7 linked regions of the Homo sapiens genome follow. The protein of the gene in region 6 interacts with the protein of the main gene of each other region in a pairwise test. Each region holds a gene or a part of one and is shown on either strand. Other genes may lie near its edges. The genes, in order: FAM13C, MCM9, AKNAD1, TEX48, CNOT9, MESD and MKNK2.

What was found.
Region 1: the proteins of MESD (region 6) and FAM13C interact in binary tests that used the Homo sapiens proteins (3 or more experiments, as listed by UniProt).
Region 2: the proteins of MESD (region 6) and MCM9 interact in binary tests that used the Homo sapiens proteins (3 or more experiments, as listed by UniProt).
Region 3: the proteins of MESD (region 6) and AKNAD1 interact in binary tests that used the Homo sapiens proteins (3 or more experiments, as listed by UniProt).
Region 4: the proteins of MESD (region 6) and TEX48 interact in binary tests that used the Homo sapiens proteins (3 or more experiments, as listed by UniProt).
Region 5: the proteins of MESD (region 6) and CNOT9 interact in binary tests that used the Homo sapiens proteins (3 or more experiments, as listed by UniProt).
Region 7: the proteins of MESD (region 6) and MKNK2 interact in binary tests that used the Homo sapiens proteins (3 or more experiments, as listed by UniProt).

The regions. Positions count from the first base shown.
Region 1 is NC_000010.11:59,247,550-59,251,049, forward strand, and holds part of FAM13C (protein FAM13C), read right to left. Parts: intron 222-3,500; exon of another isoform or gene 189-221; coding exon 65-188; 3' UTR 1-64.
Region 2 is NC_000006.12:118,827,160-118,830,659, forward strand, and holds part of MCM9 (DNA helicase MCM9), read right to left. Parts: intron 2,092-3,500; coding exon 1,889-2,091; intron 972-1,888; coding exon 768-971; intron 1-767. UniProt on the Homo sapiens protein: Component of the MCM8-MCM9 complex, a complex involved in the repair of double-stranded DNA breaks (DBSs) and DNA interstrand cross-links (ICLs) by homologous recombination (HR).
Region 3 is NC_000001.11:108,854,295-108,858,485, forward strand, and holds the start of AKNAD1 (protein AKNAD1), read right to left. Parts: upstream 2,801-4,191; 5' UTR 2,635-2,800; intron 1-2,634.
Region 4 is NC_000009.12:114,679,393-114,683,529, forward strand, and holds the start of TEX48 (testis-expressed protein 48), read right to left. Parts: upstream 2,801-4,137; 5' UTR 2,643-2,800; intron 2,474-2,642; exon of another isoform or gene 1,767-2,473; intron 1-1,766.
Region 5 is NC_000002.12:218,592,839-218,595,209, reverse strand, and holds part of CNOT9 (CCR4-NOT transcription complex subunit 9), read right to left. Parts: intron 1,683-2,371; coding exon of another isoform or gene 1,637-1,682; exon of another isoform or gene 1,363-1,636; intron 1,103-1,362; coding exon 934-1,102; 3' UTR 1-933. UniProt on the Homo sapiens protein: Component of the CCR4-NOT complex which is one of the major cellular mRNA deadenylases and is linked to various cellular processes including bulk mRNA degradation, miRNA-mediated repression, translational repression during translational initiation and general transcription regulation.
Region 6 is NC_000015.10:80,977,536-80,979,819, forward strand, and holds part of MESD (LRP chaperone MESD precursor), read right to left. Parts: intron 1,943-2,284; coding exon 1,684-1,942; 3' UTR 1-1,683. UniProt on the Homo sapiens protein: Chaperone specifically assisting the folding of beta-propeller/EGF modules within the family of low-density lipoprotein receptors (LDLRs).
Region 7 is NC_000019.10:2,044,745-2,048,244, forward strand, and holds part of MKNK2 (MAP kinase-interacting serine/threonine-protein kinase 2), read right to left. Parts: intron 1,948-3,500; coding exon 1,860-1,947; intron 1,725-1,859; coding exon 1,623-1,724; intron 1,540-1,622; coding exon 1,442-1,539; intron 1-1,441. UniProt on the Homo sapiens protein: Serine/threonine-protein kinase that phosphorylates SFPQ/PSF, HNRNPA1 and EIF4E. May play a role in the response to environmental stress and cytokines.

The sequences.
Region 1 (3,500 bases), on a different chromosome or scaffold from region 6:
TGGCAGAGGAAAATAAACTTTACTTTATATCATGGGTGAAAGTGATCATAACATTTCCTGAACCTCAAATAGTTTTGGCCACATCTTGCTTGCTGATGAGGACCTCTAATAGTCTCAGTTTGGCTTTTATGTGCTTATATTCATAATACTCATCTGCCATTGGTATCCTATCTTCCTTTTGTGGACTTCTGCAAAACAAAAATACATTTGTTAGTTCACAATGAATCAAGTCATTATTTAAACATTCTTTTATAATTCATACATGAGAAAGTATACTGTAACGGCCTCCACTTGGTTTTTGCATCATGTCTTCTTTTCCTTCCCTTTCACCTTCATTCACTCCTTCTTCCATGTGTTACTAAGTTTCTAAATAATAGTAACCTTTGAAAACTTGAATGTCATAAGTGTTTTGCAAATATGTGGTCTAGTGCTTAGACTTACAACAAAGGGGTCAGTGAAAAGATCTAAGGAGAAGCAAACAAACAAGAAACAGAACTTTCAAGGCATTCTTTGTCCAGTCATTCTTCCATTATTTGCCACACCCCTACAGCTGTACAAAATGATCAGCCCTAATACAGTTGTTAAAAATATTAACCTGAAAATACTACAGGAATTTCATTATAAAAATAACATAAACCTATGGTAACAAGAAAAGCATTTAGGGTCTGTCTTACAAACTTGAAACGTTTCCAGATTTTCTTGTAATTATAATACCTATCTCTGCTAATATATAGTAGAACCACTGAGCTGTTCCTTGATTGAAGTAATTGACAAGAGTCTAAATTGTGGTGGTTCTCTTCTGTACACTAATTCTACTAAGGCTAGACATGTAACAATGCATAGATTTTTATACATATGCAGCATACTCTTGCTGTTTACTTGGAAGAATAACTTGGTAATATCAGGAGTTAAAACCATTTGCCTTCCCACAAAAATATGTTGTCAGGAAACGTTTTCTAAAGGGAAAAATTGCGACAGGGTCTCAGAAGGCTCTTGTTTTCTTGGTTAATAAGATAGCCAATCGTTTTGAAAACATTTCCACCCACGACTTTGAAATTCAAGGGGTAGAGGACACAGATATAGTCACCACAATTACAACTGAATATAACCACAAGTATTCTCTAATGTTAGTATGGCTGAAACCAGGTAAATAGCATATATTTAATGTTTTATCTTTAGCTCCCTTCTATTTTTCCCAGTAGTGATAAAGAGATATTTCTATCTCTTACCAAATAAAAAACAAGCTAATCTATACAAATTAAGAATATAGTATCTACTTGTATTTCAACACTATTTATTGCCCTGCAATTTCTAGTACAGAACTCAGAACAGTATACAAATCCATAGACAGCATTCTTCTTAACTGTTGTCTAAATTATATAACATATATCTTTGCCTCCATTCTGTGTTATGAGTCAAACTTATCATGGCTGGATGTCTGAATACCACCTTAATTTGTATAAATAGATCTAAGTAAAGAAATTGTCTAATTATTACAGAGAAACATTAATAATCAATTATGTAATTTTCCGTAGTTTTGCATATTCCATTTTGGCTAATAAGAGTGCTTTGAGGCCGGGCACAGTGGCTCACGCCTGTAATCCCAGCACTTTGAGAGGCCGAGGCGGGCGGATCACAAGGTCAGGAGATTGAGACCATCCTGGCTAACATGGTGAAACCCTGTCTCTACTAAAAATATAAAAACTTAGCCACGCGTGGTGGCGTACGCCTGTAGTCCCAGCTACTTGGGAGGCTGAGGCAGGAGAATGGCGTGAACCCAGGAGGCGGAGCTTGCAGTGAGCCGAGATCGCGTCACTGCACTCCAGCCCAGGTGACAGAGTGAGACTCCGTCTCAAAAGAAAAAAAAAAAAAAAAAAAAAAGAGTGCTTTGACAAGAATGAAAAGTTTTGCCAAGTCTTTCCTGAAGGAGTTTCTCCATTATATAAAACATACTAAAGTGCTTAGCACACTTCCAGGCTAATAATTATTAATAATAATGTAATATCTGCATGATTCTCATGCCTCTTGTATGGCAAATATTACCAAGAACATTTATAGTGCCTTAAACATTTTAGTAATCCATTTGCATGGTTATTTTAACTTATGGATGCTTAGGCCTTCCCAATAAAATGTCTTAGATAAACAAAATTAAGGTCCATATTTCCTAGCCATTCAACTGTTTGATTTTAGTTGTAAAAGATCATCACTTGTGCATTTAGTTGAAATATATCATCACAAGGGGGCATAAAACTTCATAGACAAATACAGACTTATCTGAAGTGGGTTTAAGACTCATAGGTGCAGTGGAACACTATACATAGAACATAACTAACTTCCCTGTATGTATGACAAAAAGCACACCAAGTGACACTGCAGATCCAGTAGGCAGGACTAGTAGCACACTGGGAAGTTCTCAAACCCCTTACGATAGATTCCTGAGTTCAAATTGCTAAAAAATATAAATTTATTCAGGGAACTCAAATTTATGAAAAGAGTGTACGCACATCTTAAAGTGTCATTTCTCATATGTAATGACTGTTTAGATTTAGAATATGTGATAACATCTCCACAAATATTTCCCTGAATGAAAAATTCCCATAGAATACCTTTAATCCAAAAGAGGCAGAGATCAGGAACTTTATAGTGCAAGTCACATATTTACCCAAAGTATAATAGGAGCAGACAGTCCAGACAGACAAAGTTACTACTCCAAGGAATATTTTACAAGGAAAGTTACATGAACATTTTATAAAAGAAAAAAGTATGGAAAAGGAAAAAAATAACAAATGCTTTATATTCTAAATTTATGAGCCACATAACATTTCTCACTAGATTACTTAACATCACCAAAAAGGTAAGTTGGACTTGTAGCAATCAACTGGAAAGGAAGATTGTAAGTAGAAAATAAGTTGTTACATCTGTATTGGCTGAATGCAAAAAGCTTTTCACTCAATAGGTCCAGTCCTAAAGAATATCCCTGGTAGGCTAAAATGGAAAACCTGCCAGGGACTAAGAGGTAAGTAGACCACGCATGAGAGTTTCAAGGTGCTTTTGGAAAATAGTCCCTTTCCATCAGGACAACCCTCAACCTGCTGAACTGAAAAGTCAAATACAATACCTAAATGGAGAGGAATACAGAGGAGCCCATGTAGCACTGATGAGTTTAATGATGAGTTTATGAGTTGAATAATGAGTTTAATCTCATTTCATCTACTTAATAACTTGTGGCTTTGGGAAAGTTACACTCTTCATTTATTTATTTTTGTAAAGATTGATATCCCACATGACAGCTGTAGCTTCCCAAAGTATCCCAGGAGTCCAACCATTTCAGCTCATAAAATGGGAACTGAGGTTCAAGATAGCTAAGCAATTTATCTCTCTTCCAAATTAGATCAATAACCTTATCTCTTGATTATATATGTAATTTTGTTGATGATACACCAAAAATTGGAGGAAACTAATAGAGTGTATAATGAGACTTGGGTTGACACAGAAAAATA
Region 2 (3,500 bases), on a different chromosome or scaffold from region 6:
CATTTTCTAGTCTTTTATAAAACTACACAAAATTAAAACTCATTTTTCATTTCTGGCACTCCTCTTTATGATCTATGAGCTTTTCAAAGCTACCAAACAAGCAATTCTAAATTCTGAGTATTTCTTGCCCTAATATTAGCTATAAATCCTTGAAAAAAGAAAGTCCATTTGTTTTACAGTATTTTTTATTAAGCTTGTATTATTTTATTTTATTATTCAGTTCATGTGAATTCTTTTTTTAGATTTAAACAAAAGCTAAAATGTAAAAGCCAATGTTAGAAGAAAAGAATTAAGATACATGTTAGCTATATGTATATATGTAATGGGGCAGGGCATGGCATTGTCAAGTTGGTTGCTATAATGACAGGGGTGGACTGCAACTGGCAATTAATGAGCAAGAACTAGTGATGCTATATGGGAAACAATTCCAAACAAGAAACTGTCCTACTCAAAATGCTAACAGAGCTACCACTGAGAAACAAAATATCAGAAGTAAGGCTTTCTAAGTGAATGGTATATTAAGTTCTAGGAGGTCCCGAGATGGCACAAAGATTCCTCTTTCTTAATGACACCACATTCCAGTCAATACTCATAATCTGTCCTCAGAGGAGCAGAGATCTTCTGGCTCAGAGCCTTTATTTTTAAGTGACTATGAGCACCTTAGAGTGGGAGTTATTCTCATTCAACTTTGAATCCATGGTGCCAAGCCCCATGCCTTGCACACACGCAGCATTCAATACAAGCATCATTCGCTGAATGAAATAGACCTTCTGCTAATCGTATCAAGCTTTCCAACAGCCGAATGGTGGTCCGGGCAGCGTTCCGGCAATCACTCTGCCTTTGCATCTGGTAGTACCGGAGAAGAACCTGATTGCCCACATCAGACAGTGTGGGCTGCAGATTCCTTATGAGGCAGAAATAGGTTTTCATCTTTTCCATGCTCCAGAGCTTCTCTGATTTGCTTGGGTAACCTGTATGTATCAGGTGTTGGGTCAGTAAGTTCTTAGGACAGGCAAACATCTCATTTTAAGGATTTTTATAAAGTTCTGGTACTCATTTGTTAAAAGATAACCTTCATGTTTTGTGGTTATTGAAATCTAGACTTGTCTGCATAGCATACAATCAGCATCTTATGATCTAAGCTTAATAAAGGTAAGCTTCCTGCCTTTATTAAAAATTATTCAGAATAATTCTGGTCTGCCCAGTAATCAATAATATTCAAATACATCTATTTTTTTTTTTTTGAGATGGAGTCTCACTCTGTCACCCAGGCTGGAGCGCAGTAGCACGATCTCTGTTCACTGCAACCTCTACCTCCTGGGATCAAGCAATTCTCCTGCCTCAGCCTCTGCAGCAGCTGGGATTACAGGTGTGCACCACCACGCCCAGCTGATTTTTGAATTTTAGTAGCGATGGGGTTTCATCATGCTGGCTAGGCTGGTCTTGAACTCCTGACCTCAGGTGATCCACCTGTCTCAGCCTCCCAAAGTGCTGGGATTACAGGCGTGAGCCACCACGCCCGGCCTGAGTAAATCTGATTTAAAGAGAAGCCTACATTTAGAGATTTGTTTCACAATTCATTCTGGTTTTATATGCAAGAGGTGAGCGTTAATTCTGTATCATAAGGTTGTCCCCTTTCATCATAAGGCACATATTTATAACAACTTTAGTCTCATTAGTGGCAGGTAGAGAAAGGCCCTTTTCCTTCAACTCAGTATTCTGAGGCCCCGTAAGTGGCTCCTCTCACTGCTTTCTGTCTAAGCTTTTCTCTATTGCCTGGTACTACATAGCCTATCTTGGGTATTTATTTAATTTTCTTGAAAGGGAATTTCTTTTAGTTACAGCTAATCTCTCTGTTATTTTGAATGCTTTGTTTGTCTTCACGTACCTTTATTTTCTAAGATAAAGGAGGAAATGATACGATCCCAGTCTTCATTCTTGGTATCAAGCAAAACCAGGATCAGGTCAAATCGACTTAAGAGTGGGCTGCCGAGGGCAATGTTCACAGACACGGACTCCTGGGGGTCGTACTGGCCTTTGGGGTTCGTTGCTGCCAGGATGGTGGTCCTTGTGTTCAGCTTGCACACGAGGCTGCCAGGAGAGACAGTACAATTCACTGATTGTGAGGTTCAGATAAAATGCAAGATTACAGCTGTTAATAAAATGGGGCTGCTCTTGCACCTTGAAAATCTACGAACTCCTATGAAAGAAAATGTAGAATGACAGAAGGAGATATCACAAACATCAACTTCCAACAAAGTATACTGAAACTATTCTATCTTAAAGAGAAGTAACCGTTCAATAAACACTTTTTATGCCCCTGCTATGAGGAGACCCCTTTGCTAAGTGCTAAGAAGTATCCAAAATTAAACCAAACTCTTCTTAAGGGGCTTGCAATCTACTAGCTATAATGTAACACAAGGCAGAATATGGTTAAGTTCTAAAAGAATAAAGTTCCCAGGGGAAATAGGGATGATGTATATTCATCTATGTGGATAGAAAAGATGAACACAGAAGCAAACACTGTGAAGCAGCTTTTGAACTGAACCTTTCAAGACCTCTGGACATTTTTAGGTGGAGAAAGACAGGCATTTGCAGAGGGGGTGAGGGTAGAGAGTGAGGATGACTCTGGAGAATAGTGAGTGGTTGAGGCAAAAACTTTCTGTGTATTCACTCATTTTGTTTTGATTTTTTTTCTAAACACGAAAGAAACAAAAAAGAGAGAAAGAGGGAGGGAAAGGAAATCAGAAAATATGATTGATTTGGCATTGAGTTTTTGAGGAGCCATTGTGAAGGGAAGTCTGATGAGGACTGGGTTGGTGAGTGGGTTGGACAGGAAAGGACTGTGGACAGGATGCAGGGTAGGGGCTCTAGTACAATGGTCCAGTAGAGGGACAAGGTAGTCCTAAATGGAGCGTGGCAGGATAGGGATGGATGTGACATAACTTAGATATTGTTTTTAAACTAATTAATGATGGGCTAGTTCTCAAAATAATGTGACATATTCATTGGCAATAACAAATGTAAAAATTTGAATCTGTAAATTTGTATGCTGTGCACTTGATGCCCATTTTTAGTTATAGTGGGATGTCTGCCTCCCAAGTCACAGCCCTATGACATCAGCAACATGTATTACATTTGTTAATCCCTGATCTATTTCTAGCTAGCAGCTACTTCATTCCCTGAGGCTGAAAATGTTTGAGAATCTTTATTTGTGGCAAGTGGCACAAGAAGACACTGATTAAATAAATAAGAGAAAGATAAACAAGGCATTTTTACCAAAAACTAAATTCCCTTTTAAAAAATTAGTGACAAGGAAAAATTCTGGACAGTCCACATCTTATAATTTATGTGTCAAAATGGCTTTTGTAAAGACAGTTGTTTAGAACTTGGAATATAATTTGCCATAGAACAATGTAATAAGCGGTTCCTAAGTAACCCACAAAAGCACATTTAACCCACACTGAAGACGGACTATTTGTATTTCTTATTTAAAAATG
Region 3 (4,191 bases), on a different chromosome or scaffold from region 6:
ACTGAGATTCCCTCTCCCCTGGAGCACCAGCCCAGGGTGACCACAGCTGCTGGCAGCCTCCCTTGCCCATACAATGATTATGTTGGGTGAGCAGATCTCTGAGGTTCTCTCTCCAACCAAATTTTTATGAGTCTATAAGCTGGTGATTTATTAGGTAACCTCAAAAGCTAAAATCATATGTTTGACCAAAATAAATTTTTTTGAACTAAGTCGTCCAAGAAAAAAAGGAGTACAAACTAAATGTGGTAAAAGCATCTGTGAGACATTGTACAAAAATCTTAATTTATAGACACATGCCAATGTTAGAGAACCCAAATTAAACAGATGCTCTGTTTAGAGAGGTGGAGAGAAAGGAGAATATCACTGCAGGATTATTTTAAATCATTTAAAGAGGGTAACATTTAGTATAAAGTGAGGCATGTCTTCATGAGAAGAATTACAGGCTATTCTAATCCAAGTTGAAGAACAAGGGAAAAGGCTTCCCAAGAAAGTGAAAGGCACAGTGGGAAAGCAGAAGTGGAGAGGCATGGATCTGAATACTCTGGCTTCTCTGCTTTCTAGCTGTGTGTCATCTGGCAAGTTATTTAACTCTTGTGAGTCTCGGTTGCCTTTTCTGAGAAATAGGACTAGCAATACCTGAAATAAGGCACTAAAGTACTCGGCATAGGGCTTGGCACAGAGTAAGAATTCCATACATTGTTGTTGAAAAATGAAAAAACAAAACCAGTCTCAGTATTGGAATACTGAAGAATGCCCAGGTCCAGAGGTGAGGCACTCCTTATCCGTGGGGATATTTAAAGGATAAAGGAAGGAATTGCATATGTAAAACATAATCTCGTCCAAGCAAGGTGGCTCATGCCTGTAATCCCAGCACTTTGGGCGGCCGAGGCAGGTGGATCACGAGGTCAAGAGATGGAGGCCATCCTGGCCAACATGGTGAAACCCCGTCTCTACTAAAAATACAAAAAATTAGCTGGGCGTGGTGGCGCACACCTGTAGTCCCAGCTAGTCAGGAGGCTGAGGCAGGAGAATCACTTGAACCCGGGAGGCAGAGGTTGCAGTGAGCCAAGATCGCGCCACTGCACTCCAGCCTGGCGATAGAGTGAAACTCCGTCTCAAAACAAAAAAGACATAATCTCTACAAGAACTTTAAGACAATTTTAAAACTCAATCTGTAAATAAATATATTTGAAGGTAAAAAAAAAAATCAGGCTGGATGAGGTGGCTCATGCCTGTAATCCCAGCACTTTGGGAGGCTGAGGCAGGTGGATCACTTGAGCTCAGTAGTTCAAGACCAGCCTGGCCAATGTGGCAAAACCCATTTCTACTAAAAATACAAAAATTAGTTGGGCATGGTGGTGCATCCCTATAGTCCCAGCTACTTGGGAGGCTGAGGCAGGAGAATCACTTGAACCCGGGAGGCAGAGGTTGCAGTGAGCCGAGATCATGCCGCTGTACTCCAGCCTGAGCAACAGCAAGACTCTGTCTCAAAAAAATAAAAAATAATAAATAAATAAATAAATCACTAAGCAAGTTTAAACAAAATATTGTCTAATTTTTTAGAACAAAAAAAAACAGAGTATCTTTTTTTTTTTTTTTTTAGACAAGGTCTCACTCTATCACCCAGGCTGGAGTGTAGTGACAACACCATGGCTCAACTGATCTTCCTCCCTTAGCCTCCTGAGTAGCTGGGACTACAGGCGCACACCACCACACCTGACTAATTTTTAATTTTTTTTTTAGAGATGGAGTTTCACCATGTTATTCAGGACGGTCTCGAACTCCTGAGCACAAGTAATCCACCTGCCTCAGCCTCCCAAAGTGCTGGGATTACAGACATGAGCCACTGTGCCTGGCCTGAGAGTATGTTTAAATGCCTACAGAGAGAATGGAAGAAGAAGAAAACAAATTCTAGTTTTGCAAGACTTTTAATGACCCAAGTATCAGTCCCAAAGTTATCCTCATGCTTTCTTTACATTTTCAGGAGCTCATTGCCAAACGCCATACCCTTCTTGTATAGAAAGGAAAGATACTTTGTTGGCCAAATTCCCACTTTTAAAATATAATTAATTAAAACTGATAAAATTTGAATTTTGCTCTGGCTCTCAAGAAAAAGAAAAAAAGTCCAGGCACAGTGGCTCATGCCTGTAATCTCAGCACTTTGGGATGCCAAAACAGAAGGATTCCTTGAGGACAGGAGTTTGAGAACAGCTTGGGCAACAAAGCAAGACCCTGTCTCTACAAAGAAAAAAAAAATTAAAAATTAGCCAGCAGTGGTGGTATATGCCTGTAGTCCCAGCAACTTGGGAGGCTGAGATGGAGGATCAGTTGAGCCCAGGAGGTCAAGGCTGCAGTGAGCAGAGATCATGCCACTGCACTCCAGCCTGGGTGACAGAGCAAGACCCTGTCTCTCTCTCTCTCTCTCACACACACATAAACACACACACACAAACACACACACAGACAAAGAAAGAAAGAAAGGAAAAGAAAAGGAGTGAGATACCATTAAGATAAACCAGAAACCTGAGGAACACTCTCATTACATACAGGAAAACAGCTTCTGTTGTTATTATTTTTTGCATGTGTGCATGCAAAATATCAAGAGGATTTTTTCTGGAAAAGGACAATCCATACCCTTAGCAAGGTAATGAGCTTCTTTGAGATAACTGGAGGAACTGGAGCATCTTCCCATGTCAACACTTGGCTCAATCTTGAAATCCAAAGGCATATCCAAAGAGGTTCCACTCAGAATCCAACAGAACCTTTCTGTAGAATCCAAATTGATTTTCTGAAGTCAGGTGACTACATTTGGGGCCACGCCTGCTTATGCAGCTATCTTGACCATTATGTGCTCAGCAATACCTCACAAGTCACTCTGAGATGAACACTTTGAGCAAACAGGGCCAGGACATCACAGTGACCCAGGCTGTGAAAACACTTCAGGCCAGTCCCTGAGTAGGAATGGACAACAAGGTGGTCACCATGCTGACAGCTATTCCCTGTGTGATTTACTTTATTATGAAGTCTAAATTTGATGCTGAAGTGCTAGCCTAAGCTCACTAACCTGCCAACTTAGAGAAGAAGGTAACCATGGCTAGGATGACTGGGAATCTGATGGACTCAATTAAGAATTTCTACAGATGGGAAAACCAAAACTCCTTAGTGGCAAGAGGCCAAAGATGGTCAGCGAATTGTTGTTTCCGGCTGGTAGGTGACATTTCTTCTATTCGCTAAGCCCATTTTGTGATAACACAGTTTTCCATATTGACAGGATTGTTTTCATCACCAAAGGAAAACCGTGGGTCCATGTTCCTGTGACAATCTCTTTGTCTCATTCCCAACACCCTCTGTTCTGTGTTTAAACCTCTACAAACCAGGCAAACTGGGGACTATGTGTAGGACCCAGACATGGAGGAGAAAGCAGGCATTGTTTCTACTTACCTTATCTGCCCCTCCACTAAGGTACCAGTTAGTACAACCACGTAACACTCACAAGTCCTACACTTCTAAGATCAGCCCTACTGACTTTGTCACGGTAAGAGTTGGCTGTTGGAGGCAATGATTCAACAATCTAAATTCTGATTATTCCTTTTTGTATCTGTCATTTAGAATGTGAATAGTGTACATCTAAAAGCTTTAAGTACATTATCCATCAATTTTTACTACACAAAGCAGTATGCTGCTCTGTCTTCAAACAGCACAATGCTACAGTCAACACAAAGGGCAAAACCATGGCAATATGGCAATTGCAATAGAAACTCACCAACATCTTGGAGTCTCTGGATATCACAGGTGAACAAGTTGAAGGGCCTTGCGACACAGACAAGCAACCCTTTAATTCTAAATCATCTTTTTTTCAACAGTTGGAAGTTGACTGCAGTTGAATAACAGAACAAAAACGGAGCTTCAAAATCATGGCGTGCCTGCTTCTTCTGGGTTCTTTTAACTGCAAGCAATCAGCTTTGAAGAGCACGTAGGGAACTTCTGATGTGATACAAACTTTTGTCTTTTTTTTTTTTTTTGTCTTTTAAGAGCATTCAAAAACACTTGGTCTGGCTGTTTCAATTTTCTCTTTCTCTCCTATTCCTAGCTCAAGAATAACATTTACATATGAAAGAAAATAGGAGATGGCTCAGAATAATATGTCCAAGGCCACGCCCAGGCGTCAGGGATTCATGAATTTTGTATACA
Region 4 (4,137 bases), on a different chromosome or scaffold from region 6:
CAGAAAGGCCATTAGAAGAACTAATGTTCCATGTCAGAAGGACAGCTGTCCATATCTGTCTACTGAGTCTTTCTGAGGAGAACTTTGCACTTAACATTTTCCTATTTTGCCTCTAAACTCCCAAAGGGCATTGTCTATAAATATAAATGAACAGCTATACTGCTTGCTTGTTGATATGGTTTGTTTCTTATGTGGAGATCAGACTCTTCTATTCCAACTATAATTAAGACTAATTGTTCTGCATGATGAATACTTAGACCATTCCAGTGCATGATTCTCCAGCACCCACGGTGGACTATGTCTTCTTACACAGAGTCTGAAGGGATGAAACCCTTCTTGGGGGTTTAACTACTAGTAGATGAAACAGACTTCTGAGGATTCTGAGTTGAACAATTTAAAGTGCCTTTTTTCCCCTCACCTTGACTGACACAGCAAATCATGTAGCCCACACCCTAGGGTACACCTGACCAATTTAAAATCCTTAGTTTGAGTAATTATGGATCACAGAAACCTTCGGGTTTTATTTTAGCTAATTAGGGGAGTCTGCACCATTGCTAACACTCCCGTTGTGCCTGGATTAATATCACAGGTGAGGTTAATCTATAGCTAAGCCCAAAGAAAAAGCAGCCTGGCTATCTAAGGTAGATGGTCATGCCAGGGAAATCATGGGGCATGACTCCAGAGAGGCTTTCAGATCTTTTTGAAAATACTTTTAATTGTCATTGTCCCTTTTTTTTTTTTTTTTTTTTTTTGAGATGGAGTTTTGCTCTTGTTGCCAGGGTTGGAGTGCAATGGTGCGATCTCGGGTCACTGCAACCTCCGCCTCCTGGGTTCAAGCGATTCTCCTGCCTCAGCCTCCCGAGTAGCTGGGATTACAGGCATGCACCACCACGCATGGCTAATTTTAGTTTTTAGTAGAGATGGGGTTTCCCCATGTTGGGTCAGGCTGGTCTCGAACTCCTGACCTCAGGTGATCTGCCAGCCTTGGCCTCCCAACGTGCTGGGATTACAGGCGTGAGCCACTGTGCCTGGCCTTAATTATCATTGTCTTGCATCATTCAGGTTCTGTTGTCCAGAGAGCTGAATGCTTTTATGTAGCCTCTGGTTTGACAAATGGTGAAACAAATGATTCAAAGAAAAAATGAGAAGAAATGAGGCAGACTGATACTCAAAATGAAAACCAGATCTCTGTACATGGAAAAATGGAACTGTGTTTTCAAGAAAAGCCAATGACAGTGGTGAAGATCTGGACAATCTTGGAGGGTCTTTCCTGCACCTTTAGTTGAGGGAGACCAGAAGGCAGATAATGAGAATTAAAAAGAGAAGCTCCCACATTCCTAGGTGACGATGGATTGCCCTGTAACCACGGTAACAACGAATCCCCAGAACCTGTGTGACACTCATTTAATCTATTAATGAAACTCCCTTGGTAACCATTCTAACAGACACATGCCAGTAGGTACATTTCATAGCTAAAGGTCTACCATTCCTAAACACTGCTGCCTCTGAAACACCACCAGTCCACGAACTCAACACCTCCCAAAGCCCCTTATGCATCAGCCATGAGCTTTGTTCAGAGACTTTGCCATACAAGCACAGTTCTCCCTTGTTTAACCAGAAATAAATTCAGTTTTTGTTTCATGTAGTGAATGCAGGCATCTTCCACCAAAGCAGCTTATGGATATACAAGAAAATGTAGTTATTCAAATTCTCTTTTTCTCTCTTTTTAATGCAAATGATAGCTTACTATACACCACGTTTTGCACCTTGATTTTTTTCAATTAAAAATAAACCGTGGAGATCGTCCGTATTATCAGCAGCGATCTGAAGCGCAGGTTTGTTGACACCCCGTGCTGATGCTCTCTCCACATCTTTACTAGAAAATTTTGCAAGAAAGAGGGTAGTAGAACCACTTTCTCCTCTAAGTGTTGACAGCAGAGAGCTTTGAGTTTTTGAACCCTCTTCAAGAAATGAAAAGGCTCTTAGGGAGAGCAGTGTATCAGTTACAAGCACATTCTCTGGGGGTATAATTCTTGGAGATCTACTGTTAGCTAGGAAATTTAGAATTTATGACCTCTTTGAATCTCTGTTTTCTGACCTGTAAAATGGGGATGAGAATAATAGTATCTACAATAGAAGGTAGTTCTGAGGATTAAATAATGATGGAAAGTGCTTAGCACAGCTTTCTGGTGTGTCGTAAAGGCTTAATAAATACAGATGAAGGTTCTGATGCTGATGAATATGTAGGGAGATGCCTAGGGGATGTGTGGCACTTCTTGCACTACCAGTGACCCCCTCTAGAGGGAAGCAGAAACCAAAGAAGAGGGCCCTTGGGTTGTCCCCAGTGGGTATGAACTTCAGGTCTCTAGTGACCCCATTGCACTTTGATCAGAAGAAAGATGAATGAGGTCAAACAGGAAGGCTTCTGGCGCTGCGGGCGGGGGTGGGGGAGGTCATTCAGCACAGGTGGAGACTGGGACCCAGAGAGAGAGAGAAACAGTGAGGTTAGAGCAAATGAAGGATGGGGATTGCTTCTTGGAGCAAAATGAATAGGTGTCCAGGAGTGGTGGGGACATTGTGCCTTTTAGTACAGAAAAATTATCACCTCCCGCCCTTTGGTTTAAACTGTGAGCCCCACTCACCTGCAGCTGGCAGAGTAGACAGAAGGCTGTCTGTGATGTCACAGAGCTGGGGAACCAGGGAATGTTGGGGCTGGGATGTTTGGACTGGACCACAACAGCGAGGAGGAGGGAGAAGTTCTGCTGAGCACGATGCCATGCTGGCCACCAGACTGTATACTGGGGCACAAGTCCTGGGGCCTCAGGAAGCACCTAGAGGATGGCCAGAAGGGGGCAGTACAACACTGGATGCTGTAGATCTGGGTGCCATTCTGTCTCTGTCCGCCCACTGGGTAGTAACCTTAGGCAAAGTGACTTCACGCTCAGGTTCTCCCTCTGCAATATGGGAATAATAATAATTTTTTTTTCTTTTTTGAGACAGAATCTCACTCTGTCACCCAGGCTGGAGCACAGTGGTGCAATCTTGGCTCACTGCAGCCTCCGCTTCCCAGGTTCAAGCGATTCTCATGCCTCAGCCTCCCAAATAGCTGGGGCTACAGGCATGCACCATCACGTCCGGCTAATTTTTGTATTTTTAGTAGAGACAGGGTTTCACCATGTTGGCCATGCTGGTCTCGAACTCCTGACTTCAAGTGACCCCCCCCCCCCCACCCCACCACCTTGACCTCCCAAAGTGCTGGGATTATAGGTGTGGCCTTCGCCTGGCCAGGAATAATAATAATTATATGTCCTGTTTGCATTTTTAAGTATTAAATGAAATCAGGTAAACATTTAACATGGTATCTAGATGTAGTAAGCACTTTAAGAAAGGGTAGTTATTAATAACATATGCAAAAATGAAGTGACATTTTCTTCCCTATTTATTTTTCAGAAAAGAAGGAATCACTTTGTATTGGAGTCCTGACAAAATCTCTCAGCTTATGGGGCACTCTTTCCATTCCTTTATTTAGGACAACCAAGTACTATTCATATATGGGGAAGCCACATTGGATTAACATGTTCTCAATCAGTGCTATCATTTGATGCACAGAGAGGTCACTGGATACAATAGAAACAGAAGAAAGCAAAGGAATTCAGCACAGCTGTGGGGTCATTCATGTGGTTGGGGCGGGTGATGTGACTCCACAGCTGTGCTGAATTCCTTTAATAAATATTTGATGGTGAGTTAAACAGCCTTTGAAAGCTCACAGGTAAAGCCACATTCTTTTTTTTTTTAAATTATACTTTAAGTTCTAGGGTACATGTGCACAATGTGCGGGTTTGTTACATACGTATATATGTGCCATGTAGGTGTGCTGCACCCATTAACTCATCATTTACATTTGTTATATCTCCTAATGCTATCCCTCCCCTCTTCCCCCCACCCCACGACAGGCCCCGGTGTGTGATGTTCCCCGCCCTGTGTCCGATGTTGCCCGCCCTGTGTCCAAGTGTTCTCATTGTTCAATTCTCACCTATGAGTGAGAACATGCGGTGTTTGGTTTTCTGTCCCTGCGATAGTTTGCTCAGAATGATTAAAGCCACACTCTTAAATGGTAATTGAAGGTTCTCCATTTTG
Region 5 (2,371 bases), on a different chromosome or scaffold from region 6:
AAACTTGGATTGAAGGTGAGGTCCACCACCGCCCCTTGTCTCCCAATACAATACCCTTCCAAGACAGCCTGATTAATTAAGACATCTGTTTTAAGTTTAATAGAAGGGAAGTTCAAAAAGGGAAAGCACTGAGATTTGGGAAAACTAGCAGCTAAAGCCAGAAACAAGGTTAAGGTCCTCGTGGCATTCCGGACTGGGAGTAGAATGGGAGAAGGAAGGGAAACAGGTGGTGGGTTCCTGCTGTACTTTGGCTTTACATCTTTCCCCTGCCCTCCCATTTCTCCCAACAGCTTGATGCAGCTATTGGCCTGCCAGAGGGGATGTAATGCCCAGACCAACTTTTTATTGAGCTTATGCAGCTAACAGACTTGTAAACAGTGCCAGTCGACAAAGTTTTGCTGAATATTACAGCTTGTGCCCACTAAACACACCTCTCTCTGAGATTAAAAACAAAAAAACCAAAGTAAACAAATACTGAGAGAGAATGAAGAGACATATCTTGAGTCTTCCAGAAAGGCAAAATAAAAAACGCCACATGGCTTGGTCCCAGGCGTTCACCATGCCTAGAGTGCTGCTGCTATCACCACTGTCTCCCCTCCCTGCCAGTGGCTAGGTAGAGGTAGGGGAGAAGGGTCATCTTGGACATGCTGCAAATACAGCATTTGCTGGTGTTGACACCCTCCTGGGGCTGTGGTGGCAGACTGCTGTGTCAGGAGCCCATTTCCTGGGAGTAGCAGAGGGAGCCCAGGTCCTCAAGACAGCCTGAGATGGCAGCCCATACACCTCAGCAGGGGTACCTTGCCCCTTTTCTCCAGTGCGGTTCAGCATTGAGGTTGTCTATTCCCAGTCGGTGATAAAACCTGAGCTGTTTTTCTCGTAGGTTCCCCCTCCTTTCCCCAACTTGGGGGAGTAGTGGGAGGGAACAGGGAAGGATCACTGAGGGGGCAGGGGGATACCCCGGGGATCGGTGACCTGGCCCTCTTGCAGGTTCTTCACCAGTTGTGCAAGCCAGCGTTTCGTGGTGGTGTCATCTTTTAGCACCTGGGCGAAGGTTGTGTCTTTCAGCTGGTCAGGGAGGCACTGTCTGAGTGCTTCACGTGCCCTACATCAGAAACAAACAAACCAACCAGGGAGACCAACAAATAAACCCACATTTTGTGGACAGGGAAGAGCCCCCTTCTTAGACATAAATATTTAGAATACTGTGAATCTATGGCTCCTTAAGAAGCCATTAAAATTCTCTAAAGCTATATTAGGCATAGGCTTAGAGATCTCCAAAATCTGTATCCACAAATATTTTCTGAATGATGCCCCAATGTAGAATTTCATGAAAAAGCAAAATTAAAAGGTTCAATAGTTTACTTCCATTCAAACAGCTTTCTGATTTATTAAATACTGTCAAAATACTCATGTTAGAAATATATGGATTATGGCAAATAAAATAATTCAAAAATCAGTACATTAACAAGGATATCATCAAACTTATGATAACTTAATGAATTTTAATTCTATACTAAGTTATCAATTTGTGTCTTTACAGAAATTGCTTCAGTTTTATGGTTAAAAACCTTAATAAGAGATGAGCAGTGAAAACAAAACTATGGTAGCAGTATTATCAGATGAACTTTTAAACGTTTCATTTTCTTTGAAAAGATGACCAGCAGAAAGTCAAATCTGAAAACCTAAAAAAGGTAAATGTTAACTATGTGTAGAGCTATTTTAAACAAAGTTATAGTTTTTGCACTCAGACTAGTTTTCTTTGTACAAGTAGAATTTTAAATAAACACATTTTTAAACTTTAGTGAAACAAGAACCACTGAAGAACAGGATAAAATGGTCAACAAACAGGTAGGGCTTGAATAAACTCAGTGGCAGGAGACTGAGTTCACATTAAATCAAATCAAGCTAGCTCTCTTCCCAGGAACACAGAAATTGCTCCATTACGTGGTTTAGCAGAATATGAGCAGGTTGCTTTCAGCATGAATTATGGATTTACAAAGCAAAAGGTCAAACATTTCTAAAATGCATTATATCTACAGTGTATGATTTCTGGCAGAAAGATTATGAACATAAGCAGATAAAATAATTAGCTCAAGAAACTTATAGGAATCAAGGACAGAATTGGAAATAGAATTCAAGAGCCCTCTGGGCTGTGTTCCTTTTTAAGAGATCTTTGAAAATATACTTCTCTCTCTGACCACGTAGAGTAGCAACAGAAAATTCAAACAACAGGAGTAATGCATCATAAGGTTTCCTTTGGAATCGCCTAGACTCTCTGGAATTTCACAGTAGGATGGAGAGTTACAGTGAGAAGATGAAACTGATGGCTACTAAAATTCAGCATTTCAGATTTTTAAAAGAATCTAAGTTC
Region 6 (2,284 bases):
TTTGCTACCTTTTGCTTAATTAAAGCAATTATCTCATCAAAACAGCTGCTTTATACTGGGCCATTATGGCTATGCAGGACAGTAACCCCATCAAACTGCCCTGAGTACAACAGAAAAAGCCCACAGACAGGGCTTGGTTCAGCCACGGCATGATTCAGGGACTCGTTTATGCCACCAGGGTGTGGCGCTCTCTCCCCACTGTCAGACAGTTCTCTTCTCCAAGGGCGGGGCCTACAACAGCTCCCGCTCCAGGTTCAAGATGCAGGAGGAACAAGAAAAGCCTCTTTCAGGGCCTAGTACCCTAGTACGGTAGATCACACAGGCCTCACCCTGGAGAGGGCATGGCCTGGAGGGTGGGGGGACTGCAGGGCAAATGTCCCATCCAAAGCAGAGAACTGAGAATGCAGAGGGTGTGGTTCTTTCGAGGGAAATGTGAGCAGCTACCAAATTAAGGGGAAACAGATGCTGTGAGGCCAAAACAAACATACATCACCATAAGTACATTTACATAAGTAAATGTACTTTTTTTTGGTGGATGGGCAGGGAGGGGGATGTGGGGGCACAAATTGTTAACAGCAGCTTCCACTGGGACAAGCTACCACCGGCGGCAAGAGAGGGATACACTTTTCACTTTGTACCATTCTTTAACACTGACATTTTCTAACCATGTAATGTGCTACTTTTAATTTATTAAAATCACAATTGAGGGTTTTTCCCAAAGAATTTTAGTTCTTAGAAATGACATCTGTATATAAATGTTCTAACTCTTATTCACAGTAGGCTCTAACATGAACGGCAAAATCAGACATCAACAGTAGCACATCATGTTACTCTATACGAAAGCACAGATTTAGGCACTTTATCAAAGAAAAATGTTTAGAAACAAATGAGGTTATTGAGTCGTCTGTCACACTCTGCAAAGGACTCTGATTCCCTACTTAAATCCTTTAAAACTGTCACATTAAATGGAACATATAACCCCTCGACACCAGCAGTACTCTTTCCTAAATAAGGAAACAAAACAGAACCCCTAACTTTACAGACCACATAAAACCTGACAGACACCAAGAGTTCTCTTACTGATGAGTAAGATTCAAGTCAAAGAAATTCAAAACTACTTAGGATTTCAAGTGACATATTTTCTATTCTCCGCATTTCCTGCATAGATTTTGGATTTACACACCCTGGCTTCCTGGCTACAGACATCTGAGTTCACAAAGCATATTTTACCTTTAACATAATGAAAATGATGTATATGGCATGAAGAGTTTACTCAATTAAGTCAAGAGTTTTAAAGTCTTCTCTGATCAGAATTTGCTATCTGATCAGAGCAGGCCACCCAATCACAGCAGGTGCTTGGAGGGGAGTGGAATCTCAGTAGAGTTGATGACTCACCAAGTGTAAATGGGAAAAAGCAACACAGTCACATTTCCATGTAAGGAGATTTTATAGTAAACATGAATTTGTCAGTGTCCAGTATTAATTAGAAAACATCTGTCTTCTTACTTGAAGCCTATTAAGCAGTAATTCTTTGACCACAAACTGGTCATGTGGCAGACCCTTTCTAGAAGACACTAGAATGTCATCCGGTGTGCAGTTGCCTGAGACCACTCCCACCCCAGGAGCTGGGCAAAGAGCTCTCCACGTCCACCTGTCCCCCCACAGCGCGTCACTGCTGCCCCATCACAGGTCTTCTCTTTTATTCCCAGCTCGATTTTCTTCCTTGGAAGACCGAGATTTCAGATCTCCTTCCTTCTTTTTTTTGCCCTTGTCTTGCTTTGTTTTATTTTTCTCTTTGCTTCCTCCTCCTTTGCCGGGGTACACCTGGCCCTCCAGAGTTACATCAGCACACCTGTCTTGACCGACCAAAAAGTCCTTGATCTCCCAGGCGTAGCTCCCATCGCGAAGCATGAAGATAGCACGGTCTGATCCCACAATGAACCTTGGGCAGAGAGATGCAATCAGTCAGCCAGCACGTACTAGTAAGGTGCTAAGGGGTCAGAGCAATTCTCTGGCACTTATCAGTTTATTTCAAATTCTACATGAATATGGAATGAAAAATTGGATTTTCCAAAGCCTAGCAGCTACTGATATCTCATGTATTAAAATACTAGCTTGCTGAACTATTAAACATCCAGCTCAGATCAAAATAGAAACAGACACTGGATGTTCCTTTGTTGTATAAATGGATGCCCGTGTTAAAAGTGAACATTTGGAAAACCTCCCTAGGACACTGCAGAGGTGGCTCAGGGGCTGCTGCTGGGGAGGTAAAGAGGCAGCTTCG
Region 7 (3,500 bases), on a different chromosome or scaffold from region 6:
CGCTGCTGAAAGCTGTGCCCAGCAGGCACTGCAGATGGTTCTGGACAAAACTGAACCTCGTCCTGTCCCTTGGGTGGCTGGCTAGAATGCTGCTTCAGGGAGGGGGCGCAGCCCCTCCTGGCATGGAAGGGGCCTATTCTGAGGTCCCAGCATGGGGGCTCTGCATCCAGCCAGCAGCCTCACGGCACCAGGTGACCCCAGGGTGGCTTCCCGCAGCATGACCCCGAGGGCAGAGGGCCCACACCCCAGTCCCCATAGAACGAAACAACGCTCCTCAGACCCACAGGCCCAGCGATTCGCCTCTCTGACTCGCCCAGGACACCTCCTCCTCCCACTGCCACCTGGCCAGACCAACTCCCGGACGTCAGTGGCCAACAACACCTCCAGCAGGAAGTCCCCCAGGCTCTGCAGATCCCAACACTGACCACACCAGGTCAATGTGGCAAGATGACCAGGGAGGTGGCTCTGAGACACCAGTTAGGATCCCCCAGAGGCCACACAGCATGAGTCAGGCTACCTAACCCCCTGAGCCTCAGTGTCCCTATCTGTCAAACAAAGACAGGAAGCAAGGCTGGGCCACCAGGAGAGGGCTGTGCTCAGAGGAACGCCTGCTGTGTGGAAGTGCTTCCGGAGGGGCCTAGTGCTCCTGCACCATTGCCTTGGCCTGCCTGGGGGCTCCCAGGAGGCAGGGACCGTCCGTACTGTGTCTGTCCCTGCCTGCTGCCACTGTGGTCCCAGCACCTAGCCAGTAACCTCCCCAGGTTGGCCACCCCTCTTCTTCCTCCTTCTCCTCAGAGGAAAGCTCTAGCCTGGCCGTCCACCAGGACCCACAGGCTCCTGGCGAGCCCTGCTCGCCAGGGCACACCTGGCCCTCTTTCCCAGGCAGCCAGCCCTCCTGGGACCCCACCCAGCCCGGGAGCCGGATGCCAGGTCACGAGGGAAGCCTGGAAGATTTCTTGGAACACGGGATCCAACCGGCCCACAAGGTCACAGGGTCACAACCAGAGCCTCAACAGGGCTCCTGCTCCCAGCCCTTCGGCCACACCCTGGGTCCAGCAGCCGCCCAGGGCTAGAGTGACACAGGGGGCTCTCACGGGCCTGCACTGAGGTTCCCCAAACGCAGAGCCCCTCTGGGCCCTGGGATATGACATTGCATTTTGATCCTTGAAACCAAACTGTCATGTACCCTCAGGGACAGCTCAGAGGCAGGGACGGCCCAGGGGACCCAATGGGCACAGTGCCTCTGTCTGAAGCCCCCACCCTGGTACCAGAGGGGCCACCCTCACTGTCATTCCCGACTGGACTCAGGGCCCGGTGGCCACTTTTAGACACGGGTCTTCCCGGCTGTAGGACGGACAGCCGGAATGCCACACACTGTTTCCACCCCCGCTCAACACCGATCCCAAGGCGCTGGGTTCCCCAGGGCGCGGCGCGGGCCCACCTTGACGGCGTACTCCTGGCTGGTGATCAGGTTGATGCAGGTCTGCACTCGGGCATGAGCGCCCTCCCCCAGCACATCTTCCTGCAGCTGGTAGACGTCTGCCGGGCAGCGGGGCGGGCGTGAGAGGGACCCTGGCTTTTCCCCGCTCCCGGCTCCCCCAATGCCCGCCATCCCCGCTCACCTTCAAACCTGCCCGAGAAGCTGTCGGTGGCCCGGCCGCGCTTCTTCTTCTTGCCCCTCTTCTTGGCGTCCGGGATGTCAATGGGCTGGCTGGCGGGCATGTCTGTTCCAGGAGGCACGCCCAGGGGGCTCAGGACATGGCCCTGGCCGGCCGGCCCCCACCCCCCTGCAGGGGCTGGCCACTGCCATGGCAGCGACAGCAGCTGCCCTGTGCCCTCCTCCCCCTCGGGCCCCTCACCAGGGCGGGCTGAGCACTGCAGGCCAAAGTCAGAGTCTCCGTGGTCGGGCTGGTCTAGGGAGAAGGCCAGCTCGAAGGGGTTCTGCCCCTGCAGGGGAGAGGAGAGGAGAGGCACTCAGGCCCCATCCCTGCCCACGCAGCAGGGAGACCTATCCTGCCCCAGTGTCGCAGCGTCCACACTGACAAGCCCTGCGCTGAGCATTACGGAAAAATCAACTCCGTCCCCGCTCACACACCAGGATCAACTCCCACCAGGATCAACTCCCGAAGGGGCAGACAGCATAAACCAGGGGACCCCCAAGCTCCTGGGATTCACCTCCTCGCTGCCCCACACTCAGTGTGTGTGTGGATTTCTCTCTTTTTTAAATTTATGTTTTGTAGAGATAAAGTCTTGCTACGTTGCCCAGGCTGGTCTTAAACCCCTGGCCTCAAGCGATCCTCCTGCCTTGGCCTCCCAAAGTGCTGGGATCACAGGTGTGGGCCACATGTGGAAGGCGTGAGGCCTCCTAGCACCTCAGCAAGGCAAGATCAGGGGACGCAGAGTCTCTTAGGGGGTCCATGGAATTTGCCAACCCAGGGGGTGATTCTGTCCCCCAGGAGACACTGGGCCATGTCTGGGGACATCTGTGGTTGTGACCGGTTGGGGGAGCTCCTGGCACGGAGTGGGGTGGGGCAGGGGTGCTGCTCAGCACCCTGCAGTGCCCAGGACAGCCCCACCCCAGAGAAAGATGGGCCCCAACCTCCACAGGGCCGTGGGGAAGACCTCCTCCCACCTGCAGAGCCCTGGGGGCCTCTGGGAAAGGGGTGCATTGCGGGGAGGGGACAGACACAAGCAGCTGGCTCTTGGGAACCCTGCCTCTGATGCCAGGATTGAGTCACCGTGGGGCCCAAGCCGTGTCTTGCACCTCCGTCTGCTTGTCCACAGAATGGGGACGGCTGACCTCTGGGGCGGGTCGCGGGGATCAAAGGCAGCGGGGCAGTGGGAAGGAGGTGAGTCACTAGGCGGGCTGCCAGCCTGGTGGCTGTGCCTGCTTTCCCACGGCCTCCTGGGCCATCTCAGGGCAGCTGAGTCCTCCCTGGGCCTCAGTTTCCCCCATCTAAGATGGCACACAACCACCTCTCCTTCCCCTAAGCTGCTCCCCTCCCTTTCGCTCAGTGCCTGGGGCTGGCGGGGTAAGAATTCAGTGCCTGGTGCTCTGGGGCCTGCTGAAGGTGGGGGCTCTGCTTCCATCACCCCTGCCTTCTGCCCCTACCCAAGCCCAGACACCTGCATTCCTCCGCCCATGTCCCGCAGCTGCCCGGCACACCTTTCCCCTGCCAGCTCTGTGCACCTACGCCCCCGCCACCCACCAGAGGCTCATCTGCTTCCAGCCCCCCAACCCCGCAGCTACCAGTTACCGAGTCAGTATACACAGTGCTGTACTGGTCCTGGGGGCTCACGGGAGAGGCACCCACAGGCGCGAGTGTGCCAGGCCCTGCCCAGACCACATCCTGCACTCTCCCATTTCAGTGCCAGACACCCCTGGAGGGAGCCCCTGGTGGGCCCTGATACCCGGCTAAGGAAGCCGCCTTGGGCCCTGGGGGCCAGGATTCAAATCCAGGCCTGTTGCACTGGGCAGGCTGGGGCTGGGTCATTTCTTG